7 linked regions of the Homo sapiens genome follow. The protein of the gene in region 5 purifies or fractionates together with the protein of the main gene of each other region. This does not show direct contact. Each region holds a gene or a part of one and is shown on either strand. Other genes may lie near its edges.

What was found.
Region 1: the proteins of TBC1D25 (region 5) and CBY1 purify together in Homo sapiens (affinity purification with mass spectrometry, with the first as the bait; one large-scale study listed by BioGRID). This does not show direct contact.
Region 2: the proteins of TBC1D25 (region 5) and SIPA1L1 purify together in Homo sapiens (affinity purification with mass spectrometry, with the first as the bait; one large-scale study listed by BioGRID). This does not show direct contact.
Region 3: the proteins of TBC1D25 (region 5) and OMA1 purify together in Homo sapiens (affinity purification with mass spectrometry; one large-scale study listed by BioGRID and IntAct). This does not show direct contact.
Region 4: the proteins of TBC1D25 (region 5) and ZBTB21 purify together in Homo sapiens (affinity purification with mass spectrometry, with the first as the bait; one large-scale study listed by BioGRID). This does not show direct contact.
Region 6: the proteins of TBC1D25 (region 5) and LIMA1 purify together in Homo sapiens (affinity purification with mass spectrometry, with the first as the bait; one large-scale study listed by BioGRID). This does not show direct contact.
Region 7: the proteins of TBC1D25 (region 5) and CREB3L2 purify together in Homo sapiens (co-immunoprecipitation; one large-scale study listed by IntAct). This does not show direct contact.

What each region holds. Positions count from the first base shown.
Region 1 is NC_000022.11:38,663,138-38,666,637, reverse strand, and holds part of CBY1 (protein chibby homolog 1), read right to left. Parts: intron 1,093-3,500; exon of another isoform or gene 953-1,092; intron 1-952. UniProt on the Homo sapiens protein: Inhibits the Wnt/Wingless pathway by binding to CTNNB1/beta-catenin and inhibiting beta-catenin-mediated transcriptional activation through competition with TCF/LEF transcription factors.
Region 2 is NC_000014.9:71,669,976-71,673,475, reverse strand, and holds part of SIPA1L1 (signal-induced proliferation-associated 1-like protein 1), read right to left. Parts: intron 2,358-3,500; coding exon 1,784-2,357; intron 1,129-1,783; coding exon 854-1,128; intron 1-853.
Region 3 is NC_000001.11:58,505,227-58,508,726, forward strand, and holds part of OMA1 (metalloendopeptidase OMA1, mitochondrial precursor), read right to left. Parts: intron 984-3,500; coding exon 834-983; intron 1-833. UniProt on the Homo sapiens protein: Metalloprotease that is part of the quality control system in the inner membrane of mitochondria. Activated in response to various mitochondrial stress, leading to the proteolytic cleavage of target proteins, such as OPA1, UQCC3 and DELE1.
Region 4 is NC_000021.9:41,989,861-41,993,360, forward strand, and holds part of ZBTB21 (zinc finger and BTB domain-containing protein 21), read right to left. Parts: coding exon 1,035-3,500; 3' UTR 1-1,034. UniProt on the Homo sapiens protein: Acts as a transcription repressor.
Region 5 is NC_000023.11:48,559,912-48,563,109, reverse strand, and holds the end of TBC1D25 (TBC1 domain family member 25), read right to left. Parts: coding exon 2,135-3,198; 3' UTR 501-2,134; downstream 1-500. UniProt on the Homo sapiens protein: Acts as a GTPase-activating protein specific for RAB33B. Involved in the regulation of autophagosome maturation, the process in which autophagosomes fuse with endosomes and lysosomes.
Region 6 is NC_000012.12:50,273,521-50,277,020, forward strand, and holds part of LIMA1 (LIM domain and actin-binding protein 1), read right to left. Parts: intron 1-3,500. UniProt on the Homo sapiens protein: Actin-binding protein involved in actin cytoskeleton regulation and dynamics. Increases the number and size of actin stress fibers and inhibits membrane ruffling. Inhibits actin filament depolymerization.
Region 7 is NC_000007.14:137,995,587-137,999,086, forward strand, and holds part of CREB3L2 (cyclic AMP-responsive element-binding protein 3-like protein 2), read right to left. Parts: intron 1-3,500. UniProt on the Homo sapiens protein: Transcription factor involved in unfolded protein response (UPR).

The sequences.
Region 1 (3,500 bases), on a different chromosome or scaffold from region 5:
TTGTCACCAGTGTCACTTGTCAACAGTGCACCTCATATGTCACGTTACCTGTTCTGTTATGGAAGGTGACGTGAGGTGTCCTGAAAAGGGGGCAGGTCCACGACATGGCGGAGCTGACAACAACACCCCCCCAACCTGTACATTTGCTTTTAGCATAATGCAACCTATTGCAATTCACCTAGGCCTAGTTAAGTAGATTTCCTGATAACACCCTGGTTTTTGGGGAGAAAAGGAGGGGAGAAGCAAACTTTTTATTTAGGCTGGGAGCAGTGGCTCACACCTGTAATCCTAGCACTTTGGGAGGCCAGGGAGGGAGGATTACTTGAGCACAGGAGTTCAAGACCAGCCTGGGCAACTTAGCAGGGCCCGTCTCTACCAAAAAAAGGTTAAAAAAGAAAAAAAAATATATATATATATAACATTAATACAGAAAAGTCTACCACAAATCATAAGTGTAAGGTTTCATGAGTTTTTACTACACAAGTATAACCACCCTCCAGGGCCAGGCGTGGTGGTTTATACCTGAAATCCCAGCACTTTGGGAGGCCAAGGTGAGAGGATTGCTTGAGCCCAAGAGTTCAAGACCAGCCTGAGTGACACAGCGAGACCCCCATCTCTAAAAAAATTAAAATCAAGTATTTTTTAAATTTTATTTTTTATTTATGATTTTTTTTTTTGAGACAGAGCCCTGCTCTGTGCCTCAGCCTTGTAAATAGCTGGGATTACAGGTGTGTGCCACCATGCCCAGCTAATTTTTGTATTTTTAGTAGAGACAGGGTTTTACCATGTTGGCCAGGCTGGTCTCGAACTCCTGACCTCAAGTGACCTGCCCACCTTGGCCTCCCAAAGTGCTGGAATTACAGGTGTGAACCAACGCACTGGCTCAAAACATTTTTTTAAAACCACCCTCCAGATTGGGATACAGAGCATTTCAGCACTCCATAAGCCTCACCTGGCCACTGTACATGCACAGAATTGCACAGTGAGTCCTCGTTTGCATCTGGCTTCTCACACTCAACGTCATGTTTCTGACATTTATCCATGCAGCTGTGTGTAGTTATAGTTTGTTCATTTGCATTGCTGGATAATATTCTATTGTATAAACACAGCAAAATTTACTTGTCTACAGAAGATGGACATTTGAGCTGTTTGCAGTTTTGTTTTGTGTTTCTTGAGACAGGGTCTCGTTCTGGTCCCCCAGGTTGGAGTGCAGTGGTACCATCTCTGTTCACTGTAGCCTCAACCTCCCAGGCTCAGGTGATCCTCCCATCTCAGCCTCATGGGTAGCTGGGACTATAGGCACGCACCACCATGCTGGCTAATTTTCTGCATTTTTAATAGAGATGGGAGTTTCGTCATGTTGCCTAGTCTGGTCTTGAACTCTTGGGCTCACGTGATCTGCCTGCCTCAGCCTCCCAAAATGCTGGAATTACAGGTATGAACCACCACACCCGGCCTGTTTCCAGTTTTTGACCACCAAAAATAGTGCTGCTAGGCCAGGCATGGTGGCTTATGCCAGTAATCCTAGCACTTTGGGAGGCCAAGACAGGAGGATCACTTGATGCCAGGAGTTCAAGACCAGCCTAGGCAACATAATGAGACCTCATCTCTACAAAAAATTGAAAAATCAGCCAGGCGTGGTGGTGTACCCTTGTAGTCCTAGCTACTCAGGAGGCTGAGGTGGAAGGATTGCTTCAGCCCAGGAGTTTGAGGCTGCAGTGAGCTGTGATCACCACTGCACACTTCAGTCTGGGCAACAGAGCAAGACCCTGTCTCAAGAAAAAAAAAAACTACTGCTAAGAACATAAGACTTGAGCATGTATATCTACATGCATATGTACACTTTTCTGGTTCCATACTTAGGGGTATAACTATAGAGTCACAGAGCATTCATATATTTAGCTTTAACAGATTCTGCCAAATGGTTTTCCAAAGTCATTGTACCAATTTAGACTCCTATCTGTAGTTTGCAAGAGATCCTTGTCAATATCTGGCACTTTCTTTTTCATCTTTTCCATTCTGGCAGGTATGTAATGGTGTTGCATTGTTTAATTTGCTTTTCCCAAATAACTAATTAAGTTGAGCATCATTTAACATACTCCTTGGACATATATGGATTTTTTTGTGGCATGCTTATTCATGTATTTTGCTTTTTTTTTTTTTTTTTGAGATGGAGTCTCCCTCTGTCATCGGGCTGGAGTGCAGTGGCACAATCTCAGCTCACTGCAACCTCTGCCTCCCAGGTTCAAGTGATTCTCCTGCCTCAGCCTCCCGAGTAACTGGGATTACAGGAACACACCACCATGCCCAGCTAATTTTTGTATTTTTAATAGAGACAGGGTTTCGCTATGCTGGCCAGGCTTGTCTCGAACTCCTGACCTCAAGCAATCTGCCCGCCACAGCCTCCCAAAGTGCTAGGATTATAGGCATGAGCCACCGCGCCCAGCCCTCTTTTGCCATTTTTTAAAATTGAGCTGTCTATCATGTTCATTTTGTAAGGGTTTGTAAGGGTATTTATATACGCTGGATACAAGTTTCACTACTGTATATATGTACAGTACTGAAAATATCTTCTCCCACTTTTTTCTTTTTGCTTTCTCCTTCTTTTTTTTTTTTGAAACACAGTCTCGCTCTGTCACCCAGGCTGGAGTGCAGTGGTGCTATCTTGGCTCACTGCAACCTCTGCCTCCCAGGTTCAAGAGATTCTCCTGTCTCAACCTCCCAAGTAGCTGGGATTACACACACCTGCCACTAAACCCAGCTAATTTTTGTGTTTTTAGTAGAGATGGGGTTTTGCCATGTTGGCCAGGCTGGTCTCGAACTCCTGACCTCAAGTGATCCACCCACCTCCGCCTCCTAAAGTGCTGGAATTACAGTCATGAGCCACTGCGCCCGACCTCTTTTTGCTTTCTTTTTTTTTCCTTTTTTTTTTTTTTTTTTGGAGACAGAGTTTCGCTCTTGTGGCCCAGGCTGAAGTGCAATGGCGCCATCTCAGCACACCGCAACCTCCACCTCCCGGGTTCAAGTGATTCTCCTGCCTCAGCTTCCCAAGTAGCTGAGATTACAGGCATGCGCCACCACGCCCGGCTAATTTTTGTATTTTTAGTAGAGACAGGGTTTCTCTATGTTGGTCAGGCTGGTCTCGAACTCCCAACCTCAGGTGATCCACCCACCTCAGCCTCCCAAAGTGCTGGGATTACAGGTGTGGGCCACCGCGTCCGGCCTCTTTTTGCTTTCTTAATGCAACCTCCGCCTCCCGGGTTCAAGCGATTCTCCTGCTTCAGCCTCCCAGGTAGCTAGGACTATAGGCACGCACCACCACATCCAGCTAATTTGTGTATTTTTAGTAGAGACGGGGTTTCACCATGTTGGCCAGGATGGTCTCAATCTCTTGACCTCGTGATCCACCTGCCTCGGCCTCCCAAAGTGCTGAGATTACAGGTGTGAGCCACAGCTCCCAGCCAGAAGTTCTTAATTATAATGAAATCCAATTATTTATT
Region 2 (3,500 bases), on a different chromosome or scaffold from region 5:
CTTAGTGGCAAAATAGGACACAGAACACTGTCTTGGCTTTAGAAAGCCTAAGAATCAATTGCCAAAGCTTAAGAGAAATTCTTAGAAAATAATGGCATAAACTAAAAAGAGAGATCTTAAAAACTAGCAAAAATAGCATGTGCATGTCCAAAGGAGAAAATAAACAGTTGATTAAATTTCTTCCACCAATAAACCTCCCCAGAGACAGAGAAATTAAATTTTCAACAGTGCTGCTGGCTTGGCAGGAGCTGTGGGGGGTTGGGTGGGGCAGGGAGCTCTTAGGTTTTCCCTTCTGGAAAAGACTAGGAACCAAAATGCCAAAGCACCATGAGCAGGGGCAGCTCACCTGAAGCCAAACCCTAGCACATGCAGATACAGTTAGGAAAGCAGCTGCCAGACTGAGACAGCAAAGGTCCAAACAATTGCTGAGTTTTGGGCAGCAATTAGGAGAGAGAAGAGAATAAGAGCATCATGGAACATAGAAGAAAAGCAATCTGACAATTTGAGATGTTGAGTGTCTTTTAATGTTCAATGTGTTCAATGTTTCTCAGCTCCCAGTGGAAAATTCTTAAGATAGATATTACCAGACTTCTCTATCTGTCATGGCAACTTTATAAATCCAGTGATGTAAATCCTGGGAATGGTCCCATTTAGTCACTCTTTCCAGCTGCTGTCACCACACACTGAAAGGGAGCTTCGTCCTGAGTCAGACTCCATGGATGAAACATTCAGCATCACATGTAACCTATTGTTCTTCACAACACCCTACTCCACTACCTGCTAAGAGATGTTCTACATGGTACACAAACCCTGCACTCGAGTCTCAGGCCCACAGCTGTCTCCTCAGACCTACCTCCGCGGGGTGCAGTCATCATGCGGGGGAATGATGACAACCTTCACCGTGACAGATGTTCTCAGGAGGTCGATCATCTGCTCATGGCTCAGAGTGGCTACCGCCACCTTGCAGATCTCCACCAGGCGACTGCCCTGCCTCAGCCCTGCCTGCCAGGCATAACCGTAGGGCTCCACATCCGCCACAATGCCCTCATAGTTGACATGGAAGCCAAGCTGTCCTAGCCCATTTCTTCGCAGAGTCATCTCCACCGATTCACAGCCTTTTGAAACAAACTAGACAAGGAAATAAAAGATACTGTGGTTTAAAGCAATAGGGTATTAAGTGGTGGACATGGAACTGGAAAATCATTGCAAGCAGGGTTAGTTCTGAATACCTTATTGCCAGCTGAAGAGCAGTCTGGTTATTTCCTCTTCACTAATCTCCTATTCATTAGGCCAAAAGGAATATACTTGTTGCATCCAAAAAGCTCAACGGCTTCCCTGAAGTTACAAGGAAACCTCTACCAGAGACCTACAGGGAGCTGGCAGTAAATAGAAACCATATACTGCTACTCATTTAGCCTTTGTAAAATTCAAGGCAGCAGATACTCAAGCAATTCTTTTCAACACCACCACCAGATGACTGGACTGCAGCACCAGGGAACAGGTCACATGCAAATGGGTTTTGAACATGAACGCACACACACACACACACACACACACACACACACACACACACAGAGTAAATGTGTCTTCCCCAATTTGTTCTACTTTTCCGAAACATCCATGGAAAACACAAGCATGAGATAAACTCTGTTTGCTTCACACATCAAGGGAGTTTTCAGAGGAGCTAATAACAGAGCACAAGGTTCAGTAACTTGGCTCTAGTCTGTATTGAAAACTTTATGAAAGAGAAACTGCATGTAAGGAAGAGGAAGGAGAGACTCACCTGCAACCTTTTGACAATCTCTTTGATCTCCTCAATGTTAATAAAACTACCCACTGAAACACATTCTCCTCGTTCATAGAAGATTTTGAGGCTGGTGTCAGTTGAAGTCCACCCTATCACATCTCTACAGGAACAATTGAAGACCACGCTCTTTGTTTCCTGTTCAATGAGCACAATGAACTCATTGGAGATCCCTAAAAGGCAGTCTAGTTCCATGGCCTTGTTGTAGTCTTCAGCCCGGACTGCCCATACAATGGCCCCCATGCTGCTGAGCTCGGCTCCTGGATATGGCTTAGACTTTTCCTTCTTCTTGGAAGCCAGAGAGATGAACGGAAACTTGCCAGAAGGGTCGATAGGGGTGTTGGTGACATTCTTTTCTGCCAGATCTTTCAGGTATTCCTGGCGGGTCCGAGTTGCCATGGCCCGAAACTTCTCCGATTTATGAGCAGCATTTTCTGCATTAATCACTTTCGCCAAAAGGAAGTCCCTGAACACATTTGACTTAGGGAAAGTGACCCCTTTAGGAATGGGAGGCCCAAAGGAAGGCACATCTCTGGACCTGGTAACAGCCACACTGAGAGACAAAGATCAAAGAGAGCCACGTCAGTATTTCTCAGTCTCACAACATCAGAATAAAATATACTTTCTCAAAGACAAAGATGTACCTCAGATACAAAATAGCTGCTTATTTTTCCATGAGAAACAACACACATTTCTGCTTAATACGAGTATATTTTTTCATTCTACCGCATTTAGGATTTACACAACATAATTTTTTTTCTAGGCCAAAAACAAACCTCCCAAAATCCCAAAAGCTAACACTATTAACTTTTTTTTTACCAGACAGGAAACTGACCAAAACTCCATGAAAAAAAATAGGTTTACTGTAATATTCTGTGTAAGACATTTTAAATACCTACTAACTGTTTTCAAGGGAGGTTACTGTAACCACATCATCTTTCAGAACAAGCATACATTCTGTGAGAACACAAATGTGTTCTCCATTTTAGATATGATGGCTATAAGCAGACAGCTTACATTGAAAATATCAGAAGATGCATGCCATAAAAGAAATGAATTAAATTTCAATAAAACTTAACTAGTATTTGTTGGCCTAAGTGTGAGGCATTATGCAACCAGATTAAAAGCATAATTTTAAAATGAAAATTGGAATCTGAGTAATAGTATGAGAATCTTTATGTAATAGCAACAACGCTTTAAAATCATATTTTTAAACTGAGCTATTCCTTGGTCCTTTTGGTATTTTATTCTGATAATCTATTTCTAAGAAAAATATTTTCCTTCTCCCATTCCTTTAAGCAAGATTGATATAAGAAAGCCTGTTCCAGTCATTTCTTCTGACTATATATTCCTAAAATTGGGCCTAAGAAAAGGATCATATGAACATTTGTAATAACTTATTATTTTTAACCTCAAAAGGAAAAAAAGTAAGTTTCTCCTAAAACAACAAAGGAAGTTGTTGATATAGAAATAGAGAGGTTGAGTGTTTTATATCATTTCCCAAGATTTTAGTAAAGTTTGACATGACTGGAAATGATTCTAACACATCGAAGATCGCTCTTTCCAAATTAAAAGTGAACAAATTATGCAATTATACTTAGTATTAGGGAAACAATAAAAAAATCGGTTTCTTCTGAACTCTTGGAATAGAAATGGCATCATCAGAGAGTATGCATCTTTCAAATAAAATTGAAGA
Region 3 (3,500 bases), on a different chromosome or scaffold from region 5:
CAGGCATGAGAAAGATACTTCTATAATACACCTGGATCTGTTGTGCTATGCCTTAGCACATGGCCCAGTACCAATTCTTAAATTGCTAAAAAATGTTCCGCTTTCATAACAAGCCACCAAATTTAATACAAGTGAGATAGAAGAGAGCGTGTAACGTGGCTCAGAGATGCCTAACATCCATTTTGTCCTGATATGGAAACCATAAAAACATTCTGAATGATGTCAACAAATCAAAAGATTTTCAGAGGATACTGAAAACTACTTGGCAGAAAGCCGCCTCAGCTTGACCCACTTATGAATTCTACAGAAAGAAAAGCCAGAGAGCAAATGCTTCACTCTTATCTTCATAAAGAAATAAATAACCAGAAACAAACATGAAGATTTTTTTTCCTAAAAAAACAAATTCCAGTACCACTACTACAATTAATATCCACTTGACCCAAAACTTCTGTACAACTCATTAACTGGTATTTTTAACAAAAAGCTTAAATCACCAAGGAAAGATTAAATTATCATCAACATGTTTAAAAAACTTAATATGCCTTGAGTTTTAAACTTTCATCAAGTCAGTTAAAATTAAAGTCTCATACTAAAGGAGTTAAACCTTCACTATTAAGAAAAGTCAACTGTACATAGTAATTTATTCTCCAAGACTTGTGGACAAGCAGAATTTTGCTTTTCAGTCAAATTCTGTGACAACTGATAATCCATAATTATAGTAATCAAAATAGTTAATAGGCTAGAACTCTCTTTTACTAAGCAAAAGAAGTGACAGCATTAAAAATAAATGATACAGTAAAAATAATGTCCCGCCTTCTACGGTGTCAGCTCACCTGAGGTATAAGTCTATCCAAGTACTCAACTCGATTGCCATGAGAAGGGTGTGTAGATAACCATTCTGGCATCTTGGGTTGGCCATGCAGGCTATCAACGAACTCCATTTGCTGCCAAAACACTGAACTGGCTCTTATGTCTGCACAAGCCTAAAACCAAAATTAGTAAAACCACACAATGAGCTCAGTTTTGAGGATTTTTTAAAAACTACTACTTTATTTTTTTTTAATTCTATTATAATTATACTTTAAGTTTTAGGGTACATGTGCACAACGTGCAGGTTTGTTACATACGTATACATGTGCCATGTTGGTGTGCTGTACCCATTAACTCGTCATTTAGCATTAGTTATATCTCCTAACAACTTTATGTCACTACATGCTTTAAAGTCATTTTCTATCATCACTTTAATAAAAGTAGAACATGCCCATTGCTTAGAAAAAGACCCACCTCAAACAACATGGTATCACAGTACTGAAATAACAGAATGCCTGCCCTTCCCATATACAACATTCACAATAACCCTGCTAACCAAAGATAGCCCACTATTTTCAGTATGATGGATATTAAGAACATGTATTAAGGGTAAAATCTTTTACACAAATTAAAAATTCTGTTTTCATAAAGTTTTAAAATATAATGTTATTAAACTGTATTAAAGAAACTTTACTTCTATGCCACTAGAACAATCAGAAAAAAACTTCAAATAAACATAAAGAGATGACATGTTTATTATGCACATCAATTTACCCAATTTTCTCAATGTATATGGACAATATATTTAATTCATATACCTTATAAAACACAATACCTTATAAAAGTACAATATAAAAGTACATTAGTACTTTTTAAAAGAATATATGTAGATCTTGTGTATGTACAATTCCATCATACACTCATATACATACTCATACGTATATACTTGTATATGCACAGAACATATCTGAGAAGCTATTTAAGAAGCTGTTAACTACCCTAAGAATGTACCTGAGGTATCTGATAGTGGAGAGGGAGCAACACTTTTATTTCTGAACTATATTAAAATACATTATTTTATAATTAAAATTATTTTTAAATCCTCCATAAGGTGGATTATTAACAAATATTTTATTAATTTGTTCAATTTATTCACATTTCTTAACTTATTCTTTCTATAATAAGTAACTGGAAAACAAGTGGTTATATTTCCCAATGATTTTATTTTTGATTAAAACTAAGAAAAAATATATATACTATACTGACTAAAATGTACTCTCAAAAAGATTTATAATAGTGTAATTGTGAAACCCCAAAAGGCAAATATATTAATAGAACACTGCATGCTAGTCAACAACCATGCTACATCATTTCTTAACAAATACCATTAAAGCATTTCCAAATGTTAGCAAAATAAAAAATTTTAAATTCAAGTAAATCTTATTCAATATTTAAAGAAATATAATTCCTTAAGACCTCTGAGTATTCTAAGTTGAAAAGAATTCAAGGTACTTTATACACTACTGCACAGATATGGATATACATGTTTATATGTATATAAACAGGAATATACAAGATAAATGTATATAACAAACATAAATATTATTCATGTTTATACACATATAAATACATATCTATATATGCAAGATGTGTGTGTGCTTATGTGTAAAATATGTATGTAACATATGTATCTATAAAGAAATAATTATTTGATGCTGAATTAGAAACACCCAGAGGACTATGCCCCTCAATAATAGGTAATCACATTCACAATAAAAATACAGGCTGAGATTAACAAGTATTCTTCTCAAATAATTCATAAAAATATAAAATGACTTGAAAGAATTCTAACACAAACAAAAAACCCCTCTGAAAACTGGAAGATAAACATTTGAATGGACTACAAATTCACGAATTATCTAACATGAAGTTTGTCTGCTACACAAACCAAAGGCATACTTATCTAATTTTTTTAGCCTAAAACTGTTAATCAAAAGACAAAATATTTCCCTATTCAATCTCTAAGTAACACAGCTGAAGGGAATCTTTAAAGCAATATTTGATATGCAGAAATAGAAAAAGAAATTAATTATCCCTACAGACTAGAAAGTATTCCAAGCTAAAAGTATTAAAAGGGGACTTGAGATATCTACTTTAATGTTAAGATAAGAGTGTTGAGTTTGTCTGTACTTCTCAAACCCAGTTCAAAGAGCCACTAAAGTCAGATAATTTTGTTTCCAAAATGAGTATTTTATTTACATTTTTCCAATTTAGGAAAAATAAGTAACAGGTTGACATCAGCAAGATGGAAGAATAGGACGCCCTAAACCCTCCTTCCCCACATGAACACACTGATTCAACGATAATATACGAATTCCCTTTGTGAGAAATCCTGAAACTAGGTGCAATGCTTCTGCACCTGCACAAGTACGAAATGAACAACATCAAACCTGGTAGAAGACTGGAGACACCCTCTTGCCATAATCTGCGAGAGCAATTATGTACCCCCAATACAGCACCATATGATCATAAGAACACCTGCAGCTCCCCACCACTCCTTGGGGAAGGAAAAACTTGGCTTGTGTATCTAACATTCCAACTTTTCTAAGAGCTGCCCTAGGAACTGGCTTCTGTCTTGCCAGCCTTGTAGCACTGATGGAATCTAAAACGCCCTAGATATCTAGGGGCCA
Region 4 (3,500 bases), on a different chromosome or scaffold from region 5:
ATCTGGAAGTAAATGGTAATTTAGAATTTTACATCAGCTGTGCTAATTCTTGAGTGTCTGGGATCTATGTAAATATATGTCCCGACCTTATTTGTTACACTAATGTTAAAATCAAAATTAGTGCCATATGGTTAGCTTTGTTTTTTGTCCTAACTACACTCAGATTTTCAATTTGTGACAGCATAAATCAGAGGAAATGAAATATGTGCAGTCCTTCAAATGCTGGTCTGAATTTAGACTGTGGTGCAGTGTACATGTAACATGGTACAAGTTTTTATAACAATGTCTATCACTACTGAAGCCCTTATAAACTGACTGTAGGGGACTTCCATAAATTGTTTTCATTTCCCAGGTCTTCCTTAGAGTTTAACTATCATTTATTATATTGACTGAGAGCAAGTTTTTGTTAGTTTATAAAAATCTAAGTGTTACTATTGCTGATTTAAATTTCTCACAATTTTCATACAAAAAGAAGTTTTACATGACCACAAAATACCAAATATTTATTTTTATCAAGTGTCAGGATAACTTATTAAAGTTGAGATTTATCTTTTATTGCTAAAGTAGTCTAAGATATAAATCAATACTGCAAACTACTCCACTTCTTCCTATTTTGGACTTAAGAACATGGTTAAGATTTAACTAGAACTCAAGTGTCTAAAATAATTAAAAGAAGGAATACTTCGACAGTATTCCACTAATCAATAAAAAACCAAAAACCTCAATTAAATGATTATACTGACACCATGGAATGAGGAACCATGCACACAATCAAGACTAATCCAATTTCAACATTAATGAAATCAAACCATCTTGTTCTTGTAAGGTCCAGAACCACAATATTTTAAAAGCTGTATTTCTAAAGTTAAGGACATTACTAAGTAATTATCAATTTGCCTCCAACTTAATTTCAAGCGTAACAATCTCCAACCTTTATTATTCTTGTTTAAAAAATATTTTGTTTCTTATGACACATTTCACAATTCAGGTTGAAATCTGGGGACTGCCTCCCATAGGTAAAAAGTGTTGGTCTTTCAATTGTGTGTTTGTTCGTGACTCCAAAGACTAAATGCAGTCTTGAATGTCCTGTGGCAAAGTTTACACATAAACTGTCTTTTAAATGTGATTGCTGAAAGGGGTGGGGCATGGTAAAAAAGGGTGTCTGATTCTTGGGGCACAAACAGTTTTTCTGTGGCTGGAGTTGGGTTTTCGGACAGGCCTGTGGGGCTGTCAGGCTCCAGAGGCTGGATCTTGGGCAGTGGTGGTGGCGGTGGCAGAGGTGGTGGAGAGGGAGAGTTTGTGGGAACAGGGCACACCTCAGATTCCTTATGTGCCGATTCCTCTGAAGCCTGAGACATGTGCGATTGGAAGTGACTCCAGAGTCGAAAATTAGTGCGAAAAGCTTTGTTGCACACGTGACAAATAAATGGTTTCACAGAGCACAGAAGCTCCTGGTGACGCTCCAGCTGCTTATGCACCGTGAACATCTTCCCACACTTCTCGCAGGGCCACAGGCTGGCTTCTTTGCTAGGACCCGCTTCTTTGGGGGCTGTGCTGGCCTCGGGTGCCTCTTCTTCAGCCTCCTCCACAGGCTCCTCTTTGACTTGGATTTTCAGTTGCTTGGAAAGACTAAGGTCTTCGGGAAGACAAGAGGAATCTTCCGAGTCGAAGTTAACTTGTTCTGAAGAATCACTGAACACGTTGTCGTCTTTTGTGGTGACGATGTGGTTTACTTTGTTGGGCTCAGGCTGGGATTGGGGCCTTGAAGAACCAGTCACATCACCATTGTGGTCCAAAACGGGCAAAGAAAAGTTTTCGGTGGGTGCCATGTTGTTCTGATTATGGACTTCAACCTGGTGCCGCCAGATGCTGAAAGAGGACTTGAAGGTGCGCATGCACTCGAGGCAGGTCAGCTTCTTATACTCACACTTGCTCTCGTGTTCTTGCTTCAGCTCGGGCGAGAAAAACCTGAGGCTGCAGTAAGGGCAGACGGCCGCGTTCCGGCACAGCCGCTCGTGGCTTCCTTGCTCTAGGAGAGAAGAGAGCTTAGCATTACAGAGGCGGCACTGGTAAACCTCCTTGTTTTCTACTGGACTTGCAAGAGGAGCATGCTCTTTTGGTTTAGCAACTTTATTTACTCCAAGGGGTTTTTCTCCTGGATGCATTTTTATATGCTGCTTAAATTGAGAGAGAAAGCGGTACGCTTTTCCGCAGTAAGTACAAATGTAAGCTCCTTTGGCTCGAGATCTCAAGTTCCTCTTGATGACTTGCTGTGCTTGGGAGCTACTCTGTCCCTGAAAACCAGGCTTGCCGCGCCTTAACTTAATGATCAGGGCCTTCTTAATTTCTCTCTCTCTCACTATGTCAATCAGCTTTCTTTGGAATTTTTCATCCAAAACAGCATGTGAACTAGAGGCTGGTGATGGGTTCTTCACTATGCCGTGTTGGGTCTGACAGTGTGTCCACACTTTGAAGTTGGTGTGAAACCTCTTGTGACAGATGTCACAAGCGTAGGGCTTTTCTGGGTTATGGTACATGTTAACATGACGGTGAAGACCTGCTGTTGATCTAAAGATCTTAAGGCAATGTTTGCATTTAAATTTTTTGTTTGGTCTCGTCCCCTCCAACTCACCAAATTCGTCTTTATTCAAATCAGAATCTGGAAAATCTGCATCAAGGAGAGTAGGGCTTGAGCCTTCCTCAAAATTATCTTCTGACACAGGAGACCCGTGCTCATTCACCTTTAACTTCTTAAACGGCAATCTTCGGTCCGCTTGGAACCTCCTTTTTGCTGGGAGTCTGCTCATGTCTTTTTGGTCATCTTCTGTTTTCAGAGACAGGTCTCTTGTGACCGACGAAGATGAGGCAGCTGCTGTTGTTGCCGCATCTCCCACAGTGACGCGGATGATGTCCGAGGGGTCCGACAGCGGGCTGCTGGGCTCAGTCTTTATGCGCACCTCAGTCACAGGGGAAGCTCCCTCCCTGTCTGTTGACTGAGAAGCACTAAAGGACCTGAGGCGATGCGGTTGTAGCACTTGAGGCCTGTCATCTAGGGCTGTTTTTTCACTACAATCTTTTAAAGATGACTTCTGAGATAAAGCACACAACACATTCCCTGGTGCATCACTGGACACCGAAGATGATCCCTGGGAAGATTTCAAATCTATGGAAGGTGAATAGACAGGAACCTGGCTATCCATCGACAATGACCGTCTGAGGAGACTCTTAACAAGTGGGCCACTCCTGTCAATGCTTTGGTTTCCAGAACCAGATCCACTGGATGGGATCACTAAGCCTAACTTTGAATAGTACAACAAGTTTCTATCTTCACCTTGACCATTTCCTTTGTTAGTTTCTTTTAATAGATAGGGAGTCTCTGATGAGCTACAAACAGACAAAACAGGTGGCCGTGGTCTCTTCAAAGCCAGCTCTAGAGCTTTTCCTTTTGGAAGCTGACCACTCACACCTGGTTTATCATCCATAGCTTCTCTGTCTTGCAG
Region 5 (3,198 bases):
GATCCTAGTCCCCCAGACATGTGTACCAGTGGTTTGGATGATTAATGCAATGAAGGGGGCAAACAAGGACCTCCCCAAGGCAATATAGGGGAGAGGTGAGAGCCAGAACTTAAATATCTTTTTCCCTAACCTATCCTCTATTTACTGCCTCTGGCCATCCGCCCGTCAAAACACACACCAGTTAAAGACAGCCTTCCATTTCCCCATGGGTCTCTCATTGCTATGTTGCAATTTCTGGAACCCATGTTTCCCTCTCTAGTTTCTCCAGAGTTGGTTTCGGGCAAAGGAATCAGTAGCTTGTGCTGTCTGCCATCTTTGCAGGAACCAGAAACCCCAAGTATCCTAGAGGAATATTAGAGGTTTCTGCCTTTCAGGGTATCTGAGCCTCCTATTCACAGAAAGGACTCTTCTATCTCTCAGAGGTCCCAAACTACTATCCACAGAATTGGCTTGTCTGGTCCTTCAAACACCTGAGCTCATAAATCACAGAATGCATCCCAGAGGGTATTAGCTGTTTACTGACAAAAGAGACATTTCAGGACCTCAGAAGGCCAGACACTCCCATAGGTTGGATGGCCCTTTGGGGAGTCTGAGCCCATTTCCACAAAATGCATTCGTTAGACCCACACACAGTGCTTGAGCCCCCTAGACACAGAATAGTCTTGTCCTGTTCTTCAAGTGACTGGGCTATCATCTGAGGAATAGTCAGCTTCCCCCCAATACTGGGGGTGACGGGAGACTTTTAAGGGTCATCCCCAGGTTTGTATGGCATTCTTGGGGCAAACAGCAGAAGGGATGACTGCCCTGATGCCTCCTCATCTCTGGCAGCATTGCCTAGTGCAACAGCTCTGGCCAGAACCCAGCCTGGTCTACAGCCATACCATCCTGAACATGCCAGATCTTGTCTGACCTCTGAAGCTAAGCAGGGTCAAGCCTGGTTAGTACTTGGGAGAAGCTGGTGTGGCTAGACCGTGACCTGAGGACCCCAGTTATTTCACCCATCCTTTGTGGATGACAGCACCTGGCCTGTGAGAGAATCCCACCCTCTGAGCATGTCAGTGGGAAAAAGGACCTTTTTTTGATCATTATCCTCCAAATAACGAAGTGAATTCTATTAGGGCCTGCGTTTTATCAGTGCTTGTTGTTTGTCCATATTAGTGAGATGGAGAAGGTAAATAAGTGGTTTCTACTGCTGAAATGGTTAAGACAGGTGCTGTGAGCTGGAATCCCAGTTTAGGGCCGCTAGGCATGGGCTAGGCCAGTCTTTCAAACTGGCTCCAAAGCAAGTGACAAGAATAGGAGCCCTAGATCCTTTTGTAATTCAACAATGTGATGATTGGGCTTTCACACTTGTGTGAGATGCACCTCGCTCAAACCTTGTTAACATCTGCACGGTACCTGTCTGAAGTGGAAAACAAAAAGGAGGCCGAGGCCCCTGCCCAGGGCTGCCAGCATTGGTGCATAAACCTCACAGAGAGGCCAAGATCCTAGAAATGGTGACATGTGGAATGCCAGGGGTGGCTGCTCCAACGTTTCTAAGTAGCCCATACTTCCCAATCTCAGTAAAGAATCTTGTCCTTTTTTGAGCCAGGAACTCTCTTATCTCTCATCCAGGGGGCTGTCCTGAAAACATATATTCACAGCCATAATACAGACCCTTACAGGCCGATGGATGTACCAAAAAAACAGACTCAGGCCTTCCTCAAGCAGTGCTCCACCTGGGCTCACCTTTGGGAACTGATTGTCAGCATCCACTCTCCCCATCACAAGGGGGAAGCTGGAGCCTCTCTCCACCAAGTGAAGTATTTCCCCTCCATCAGGTAAAGGGCCCCTGAGGACTCCATCTACAGCAAAACCCAGGGAGGAGGCAGAGAAACACACAAACCACAGTGACCTTCATGTGTGCAAAGTATAGTTGTTAAAAACAAAACAACAGAAACAGAATAAATAGGCGTGGCCTCTGCGGGGCAGTGCCAAAGCAGAGCTCCACATACTTAGGCCTGGGGAGGAAGGGCTCTATGCTCCAACAAGTCTAGGGCTGGCAGGCAGGGAGGGAGGTGGGGTCTCATGTGTTGGCCCTCATGGCAAAGAATGGAGATCTGGTGGGGCCGATGGAGGGCTTGAGAAAGCCTGATCAAGATGCGGCTGTGGCCTCAGCCCCCTCCTCTGAGTCCCACACCTCTGACTGCAGGTAATCAGCAAAGAGAGCCCTAGCCCGGCGCAGGACGCGCCCCAGGTGGTGTTTTCGCACAAGGCGGTCAAAGTGCATGGCCAGCTCATTATAATCCAGCCCATTGCGCATGATGTGGTCGCGGTGCTCCAGCAGGATGGCCAGGCAGAGGAACAGCATGAATGGGTTCCCCCGGCCAAACTCCTGGGGTGGGGGCAGGCCCATTGGTGGTACAGGTGGCAGGGACTTTCCAGGGTCTTTCGGGGAGCCTACCTCTTGCATCAAGGGGGATCCTACAGCCATATCACCAGTGGGAGAGGCCTCCTGGGTGGATGGTGGAGATGAGGAAGATGGGGAATCAGGGTGGGAAAAGGAGGAGAGCAGTGGGTCTGGGGAGTTCAATAAAGGCTCAGAGAGGGACTTGGAGCTGATAAGGGCAGCTGGGTGGGGCAGCTGGACCAGAGGGTCCCTCCTGGAGCCCATGTTATCCCTGAGTTGCTGGAGGCCATCCAAGCTGGCCTGTCTCAGGAGACGCCCCCCACCACCAGGCCCCTGACTGGCTGTGGCCAGGTGGTCAACAGCATCTTCAAAGGTACTACCTCCTCCACCAGCAGGCCTCAGCATGTGCCTCTGTCGCACGGGCCACCCCCTGTGGCCACCAAAACCAGCGTCTGCCACTTGGCTGGGGGGTCCAACCAGCTCTACCTCATGTTCAGGAGGATCAGGGGGCAGCGAACTCCAAGTGACCTCAAGCATGCGGAGGGCATCGTCGAAGGCGAACTCACGCTTGAGTTCCAGCAGCAGCCAGCGGTAACAGAAGAAGAGGTCATCAGCGCCTGCCTCTTGCAGGTATTGATAAAAGTCAGGGTCAGCGTGTCGCAGCAACAGCTTCAAGTGTGCAAACTTGGTGGCCATGGCGCGGCCGTCAGGGTGGAAGTTGGCGGCCAGGCGTTTCATGATGCCACAAAAGCAAACAAAGGCATGGCCCTCATGGTCCATGACAGCGAGGATGGGTGAGGCAAGGTCAC
Region 6 (3,500 bases), on a different chromosome or scaffold from region 5:
AAAGCATTATTTTAAATAAAACTTCAAGCCAGCATTAAGAAAAAAAATGGAATTAAAAAAGACTAACCAATGAAAAGAAATAGAAATTAGAACTAATTCATTATAATGTCTGGTTCAACTAGATGTTAATAAGAAACCTTTTGTTTAAAGCTGTTGCTGAAAATCTTTCTAATCAGTACACTGTCTAAACAGTGTGTCTAAACAGTAACACATTTCAGAGCATGTGTTAATAGTAAGTATAATGAAAATCATTTCATTTTTTCTTGAAGATTCTAGATAGCTTTCTAATTTTTCTCCTAGAGAATGAAAACAGAAGAAAACTTCTGGTTGTTTGTGGATTCCAGTAATTGGGTTTTAGTTTTGCCACACTGGCTTTTGAAAATGTAATAGGAGTTGATAGACTAGTATAATCCAGAGTAACAATCTGGGAAGTAGATGGCTATAGTGGTAGGAAAATAGTGGCCTGGATCCTGGAAACACCTTAGAAAACTTGCACTCAGATGGAACTTAATCCTGGTTGTCACAGTATCCAAACTTTTGTCCTGCTACCTTCCGAACTCCTCAGAGACTGCTACCTGATTTGAACCCAGATGGACCGACCTCAGCTGTTGTCCAGTTAAAAAAAATACAACACTTTGGATTGCAAAACAAAACAAGACTTGTCCAAATGAAAAGTCCATCTTCAAGGCTTATTCATTCATTCAACAAATATTTATTTAGCATTTACCAAGTCTTTGGCAGTATTCCAAGTGCTGAAGATATAATGTTAAAAATGACAGACAAGGCCGAGCGCGATGGCTCACGCCTGTAATCCCAGCACTTTGAGAGGCCAAGGCAGGCGGATAATGAGGTCGAGAGATGCAGACCATCCTGGCCAACATGGTGAAATCCTGTCGCTACCAAAAATAAAAAATTTAGCTGGGTGTGGTGGCAGGTGCCTGGAGTCCCAGCTACTTGGGAGGCTGAAGCAGGAGACTCTTGAACCTGGGAGTTGGAGGTTGCAGTGAGTCAAGATCGTGCCATTCCACTCCACCCTGGGTGACAGAGTGAGGCTCCATCTCAAAAAAAAAAAAGACAGACATGGTCTCTACTCTCATGAAATTTCCATTCCACTGGAGAAGCCGGACAATTAAAGACTGTGATTAGTGGTGTGAAGGAAATACAAAAAGAGTAACTGGAGTTGTGGTAGGAACAGGGACACGAACAGCTTCTTTAGGCAGTGATCAGGGAAGGCCTCATTGAGTGAATGACATTTGAACTGAAACCTGAATGATGGGGAGAACATATGCAGCCAGCAAGGTGAAGACAATAGATGGGGGAGTTTTCCAGGTAGAGGAAAGCAAATGCAAAGGCCCTGAGGAAGGAATAATACAGCTAGGAAGTAAGTGAGAAGCATGCGATGACACAGAGATGAGTAGTAGTCAGATTAAATACGGATTAATAACAATGCTAAAGGATTTTAATTTTATTCTATGTGTGATACAAAGCCAAACATTATTATATAAAAGTGTGTTTGCAAGATCAGATATATTTCATGTACTAAATGAGTACTTTGGCCAGGTGCGGTGGCTCATGCCTATAATCCCAGCACTTTGGGAAGCTGAGGTGGGCAGATCACTTGAGGCCAGGAGTTCTAGACCAGCCTGGCCAACATGGTGAAACCCTGTCTCTACTAATAATACAAAAAAAAAACAAAATTAGCCAGGCGTGGTGGCGCGTGCCTGTAGTCCCAGCTACTCCGGAGGTCTGAGGCATGAGAATCACCTGAACCCAGGAGGTGGGGGTTGCAGTGAGCTGAGATTGCGCCATTGCACTCCAACCTGGGACAGAATGAAACTGTGTCTCAAAATAATAAAATAAAATGAGTTCTTAATTGTTTATATGTGCATAATGGCCACAAAATGAAAAGGAAGGGAAAGGTTCTCATACCTAAAAGGCTTGTAATCTTACAAGGAAGCAATAATTTATAAATAGTGACAACATTAAGTAAGGTAAGAAATGAAGCAAAAATCAAGTGTTAAGTATAAAGACTGGGGAGGCAGCCACTGATTCAAGTAGAAGAAATTAGAAAAGGCTTTTTTTTATTAAAAAAATTTAAAAAGGTAGCATTTGATTTGGGCTCTTAAGGAAAAGGATTTCAACAAGAGGGTGGGGAAGGGGAGGAGCATGAGGCTGTGGTAACTGCATGAGCAAAGGCACAGAGGCAGGAAAGAACTGGGCAGGTCCAGGAAACAGAGAATTATTGTAGGGTCACAGTGCCAGGTGGGTGGGTCGTGTTGTGGGAGATAAGCCTAAAAGAATAGGCTGTCAGAGTGGGGGTGTGGGTGTCTTGAAGAGCATGTCAGAAAGCTAGACTGAATTTACTTAGGCATTGTCTCCCCTTAAGTTTGTATATAAATCTCTTGAGGTACTTGATAAACTTCAGGTTCCCAGGCCCATCCCTCAGACACACTGATCTGCAGGTCTAGGTGGGACCTGAGACTCTACCTTTTTAACCACTGCCAGGTAATTCTAACACAGGCAATTAAAGGAACCATATTTTGAAAATCAGTGCTTTTTTTTTTTATGACAACTCTGATAACTTTTCTGCAAGGGAAAAACTGAAGCCAACTCTAAGGATTACTCAAGGACTCAAGGACTCTGGCAAAAAACTAAAAGGGGAATCTGAATTAGAAGACTGATTAAAGAACTCTTATCACCCCTGGGGCAGAATCAGCCAAACTTGGGGATTGATCAAATGTGGGTGGAGAAAAGTATTAAAGTGGTAAGTACAACCTCAAGCTTTCTCCTTAGTGAATCTGGGTGTACGCAGATGCATGGCGTACAGGGACTATCCACATAGCCTAACAGGTAGCTGGAAATACAGATCTGGAACTCAGATATACAAAGGCATTAAACATATTGGTTTGGTACTTCAAAGTAAGTTCAATACAAATTAAAGAATTAAATATAAAGTGTAAAACGGTAAAAATCAGAAGGAAATGAAAGTGAGTATTTAACCAATCTCTGGATGGTGAAGGCCTTCTAAACATCACAGCACCAGAAGAAATCTCAAATTTAAAAATCCAGGCTGGGTGTGGTGGCTCACGCCTGTAATTGTAACACTTTGGAAGGCCGAGGCGGGCAGATTACCTGGGTCAGGAGTTCAAGACCAGCCTGGCCAATATGGAGAAACCCTGTCTCTACTAAAAATACAAAAATTAGCTAGGCGTGGTGGCATGTGCCTGTAATCCCAGCTACTTGGGAGGCTGAGGCATGAGAATCACTTGAACCCTGGAGGAGGAGGCTAGAGTGAGCCGAGATTGTGCCACTGCACTCCAGCCTGGGTGACTGAGTGACACACTGTCTCAAAAAAAAAAAAATCTATAGATAAGTAATAATATACTATATACAAAATTAAAAGGCAAACTGGTTAAATATTTGACCACAGGACAAAAAATTAATATTCTTAGAAGAGTTTATACCAATCTCAAAGAAAAACACTAAGAATGGTTCTGTAT
Region 7 (3,500 bases), on a different chromosome or scaffold from region 5:
CCCCCCAAAGTGCTGGGATTACAGGCGTCAGCCACCGCGCCCGGCCAGGGGCTCTATTTCACAACCTCTTGCAACATGAGATAATTTACTTACTGTATGAGCCGATCTGAATCCATTTTCAGTTACTTCTAGCTGCAAGCACTGTAATTAATTCAATTATTAATCTAGATGCTATATCTTATAACTCCTGCAAAAGCAATGTCACATCAGAGACCCCTGTTTCCCATGAACACTGTAACTCAGGGATCATTCGAGAAGGAGGGCAAATATAAAACTCTGTACTGCCCTCTCATCTTTCAGGACTGTGCCTATGTCTACCACCTCCCAACCAATGTTACTATCATGAGAACAATTTCAGAGACAGTAAAATAATCCGTCAAAGATTTTTTGCTAAGCCAAGGGAAATCCTCTAGATCATAGACAAATTAGCAACACATAAACAAGGCTGCCTTATGAATAAGAGCCACATTATGAAATAATGGAGGGCAGTGAGGGTTCCTCTCCCATTCCCCAAATATTCGCCCACTACTACCTGGCTATCGCCCTAGGTTCTCCAAGTGGAGATTCACCCTTTTGACCTGAAGTAATTATTGTTAAATATAAATGCCCATTTAGGGTTAACATGTTAAATCTTACTAACACTAAAATTTCTAGTGAAAGCTTATCAAATCTTTCCTGACAGCAAAATTTGAAGGGATGAAATTGGAAAGAGAACATTACAGTGAACACTTGATGTCTAAGAAAGGAGGGGAACACAAAAGGGGCGAGAATGTTGAAAGGTGCCACAAGGGTCTGGAAAAATTATACTTACTTCCCAATTCTGTCTCCCGTTAGAACTCACTACATTTATTCAGCTTGTGGAGGTCATGTGACCATAAGTAATAACATTCTCAGCCAATGAGGACCCGGGTGCCCCTTCAGAACCTGGCCTGGGGCCAACCCTAGGAGTTAACTCCAAAGTGGAACATCAAACCAAAAGCTTCAATATCGCATTGAAATCATATCACTCTCCGGGCCAGGCGGGAGGAACAGGAAACCACACAGTCTGTGAGATCAGCCAACTCCTTTTCAGCACTCAGTAAGACATGGAAGCCAGATGGCCTTTCCATCTGGACACCAGGCAGGTCGAATATTCCCCCAACTCCCTACCTACCACTGTCTGGGACCAGTGGTTTCACTTGAAGAACCAACCAGATATAAAACTGTATTAGCATAACCACCAAATGATTTTACAAATAACTTGGCTTTATAGGAATTCTGCATTTTAAACAAGCAGAACTTCTGTTGTTACTTTCACAAAGACTTAGTTTTTATGATACACTTTTTTAAAAGGATATAATCATGGCGAAAATTGCAAAAATTGTTTTATTTTCCAGATGGCTAAACTGAGATAGAAGAAAGGAGAACATTATCAAGATCTTGATGTTTATCATGGGCAAACCACCTGCCAACCTCTCCCCCTAAAGCCTCTTTCCATGGGGCCTTCCCACTTCCCCTGTTCTTCATCCAACGCCTCCACTGACCTTGAGTGGTGTTGAGTTTCTATATAGTACTGAAGCTCCCTTTTTCCCCCAAGAACACTTGGTTGAAAATTACCTCTAGTCCAGTTTTACATGGTGCCTACAAGTTGTATTTCTTCCATTTTCTAGACATAGTGACGAGGTAAAAATCTGAATAGTACCAACAGGTATAGTGTGTAGACATGCTTCCCTTCATCTCTTGACTTCCACTTCCCCAAGCTGCTTTCCCAAAAATTATCCACTTCTTGAGCATCCTTCCAGATACAGTTTATACATATATAAAATACATTTTAAAATTTATAGATTATTTTGCTCTTTAAATTGCAAAAGGGGGCTGAGCACAGTGGCTCACACCTGTAATCCCAGCACTTTGGGAGGCCAAGGCAAGAGGGTCCCTTAAACCCAGGAGTTGGAGACCAGCCTGGGCAACATACTGAGATCCCGTTTCTACCAAAAAAAAAGAAGAAAAAAATTAGCCAGGCATGGTGGCACACACTGATACTCCCAGCTACTCTGGAGGCTGAGGTGGGAGGATCACTTGAGCCTGGAAGGTTAAGCCTGCAGTGAGCCATGATTGAGCAACTGCACTCTAGTCTGGGTGTCAGAACAAGACCCATCTCAAAAATAAAATAAAATAAAATAAAATAAAATAGAAATTACAAAAGCACAGACAATTCCCAGAAAGTAATTTTCAGAGAATTTTATAGGAATACAATACAAATGGCAGAAATGTCCAACATACAGGCAGGTCTGGGGAAAGAGGCAAGGTTTCTTCTCACGGTGGTACCGAACCCCAAGAGATATTCTCCTGATTTCTAGATTTGCCATCTTTTCTGAACCAATTTTAGCCTGTATTCCATCTTGAAGCAACAGCTTTCCTAAAATCAGTACTCACTGAATTAAAATAACATTTCATCATCTGTATGGAAACAATTTTTTAAGCTTCAAGAGGAAGCCCAGAGCTTTAGCAATTCAGGATCTAATGATCAGTCCATCTTTGCCCTATCCATATGCTTCATTATTTTGTAGACTCTGAACCTGTCTGCCTTTGTCCTTGTAGACCAAGATGTCTTCATAACTAACCAAATGAAAAAAAACATTGCTCCTAACGGTTAACAGAAGGCTCCTGAGAAACATCATAATCTCAGCCTTGGGTAACTTGAACATTCTAAATTGTTTAAATCAAGTATGTGACAGGTTTGCTAAAACAGAGCATTAGCAATCATGCATGTAGTAACTAAATCCCTAGTAAGAGCAACAAAAGTGATCTCACTAGGAAGGTTTGGTGGCTGCCACTGTCAGCCTCATTTAAACATTAGCTGCTTTCAGGCTCAGCAGTTCCTATATTCCAATCACTCTCTCCCAACCTCTTATTCAGTTCCTTCTCTTTAAGTCAGGATTCTTCACTCAGACAGCCTGATAGGCAAGTACTTGCAGGCAGGCAAACATGGGTTTGAATCCTGGTTCTATCACTAAATAGCTGTGGGAACTGAGCCAAGTGGCTTAAACTCACGAAGCCTCATTTTTCTTATATGTAAAATAAAAGTAATAAAAATGGCTCATTTCACTGGGTCATTACAAGGGTTAAATGGCATAATATTTGTAAAGCACTAGACACAATGTCTTTCAGCAGGACCAGCTACGTAATTTGTGAAACCCAGTGCAAAATGAAAATGTAAGGTCCCCAGTTCAAAAAGAATTAAGATTTTCAAGATGGTGACAGCACAGCATCAAACCAAGTGTGGACCCCGTGGCACTGCATGGGTGGCAGGCCATGTGGTCAGCCCTGCCTTTCGGATGATAAACACTCAATAGATGGTAGCTGTCATCATCTCTTACCACCCTCACAACTCGTATTTGAACCTCACCCTCCCCTCAGGCTCTCTTCAACTTGGAAAGTTTTATGAAATCATTCCAAAAACAGGCACTGGTGTCTCAGAAGCACCCAGAGTTTATAAGACAAATAACTCACCAAAATGA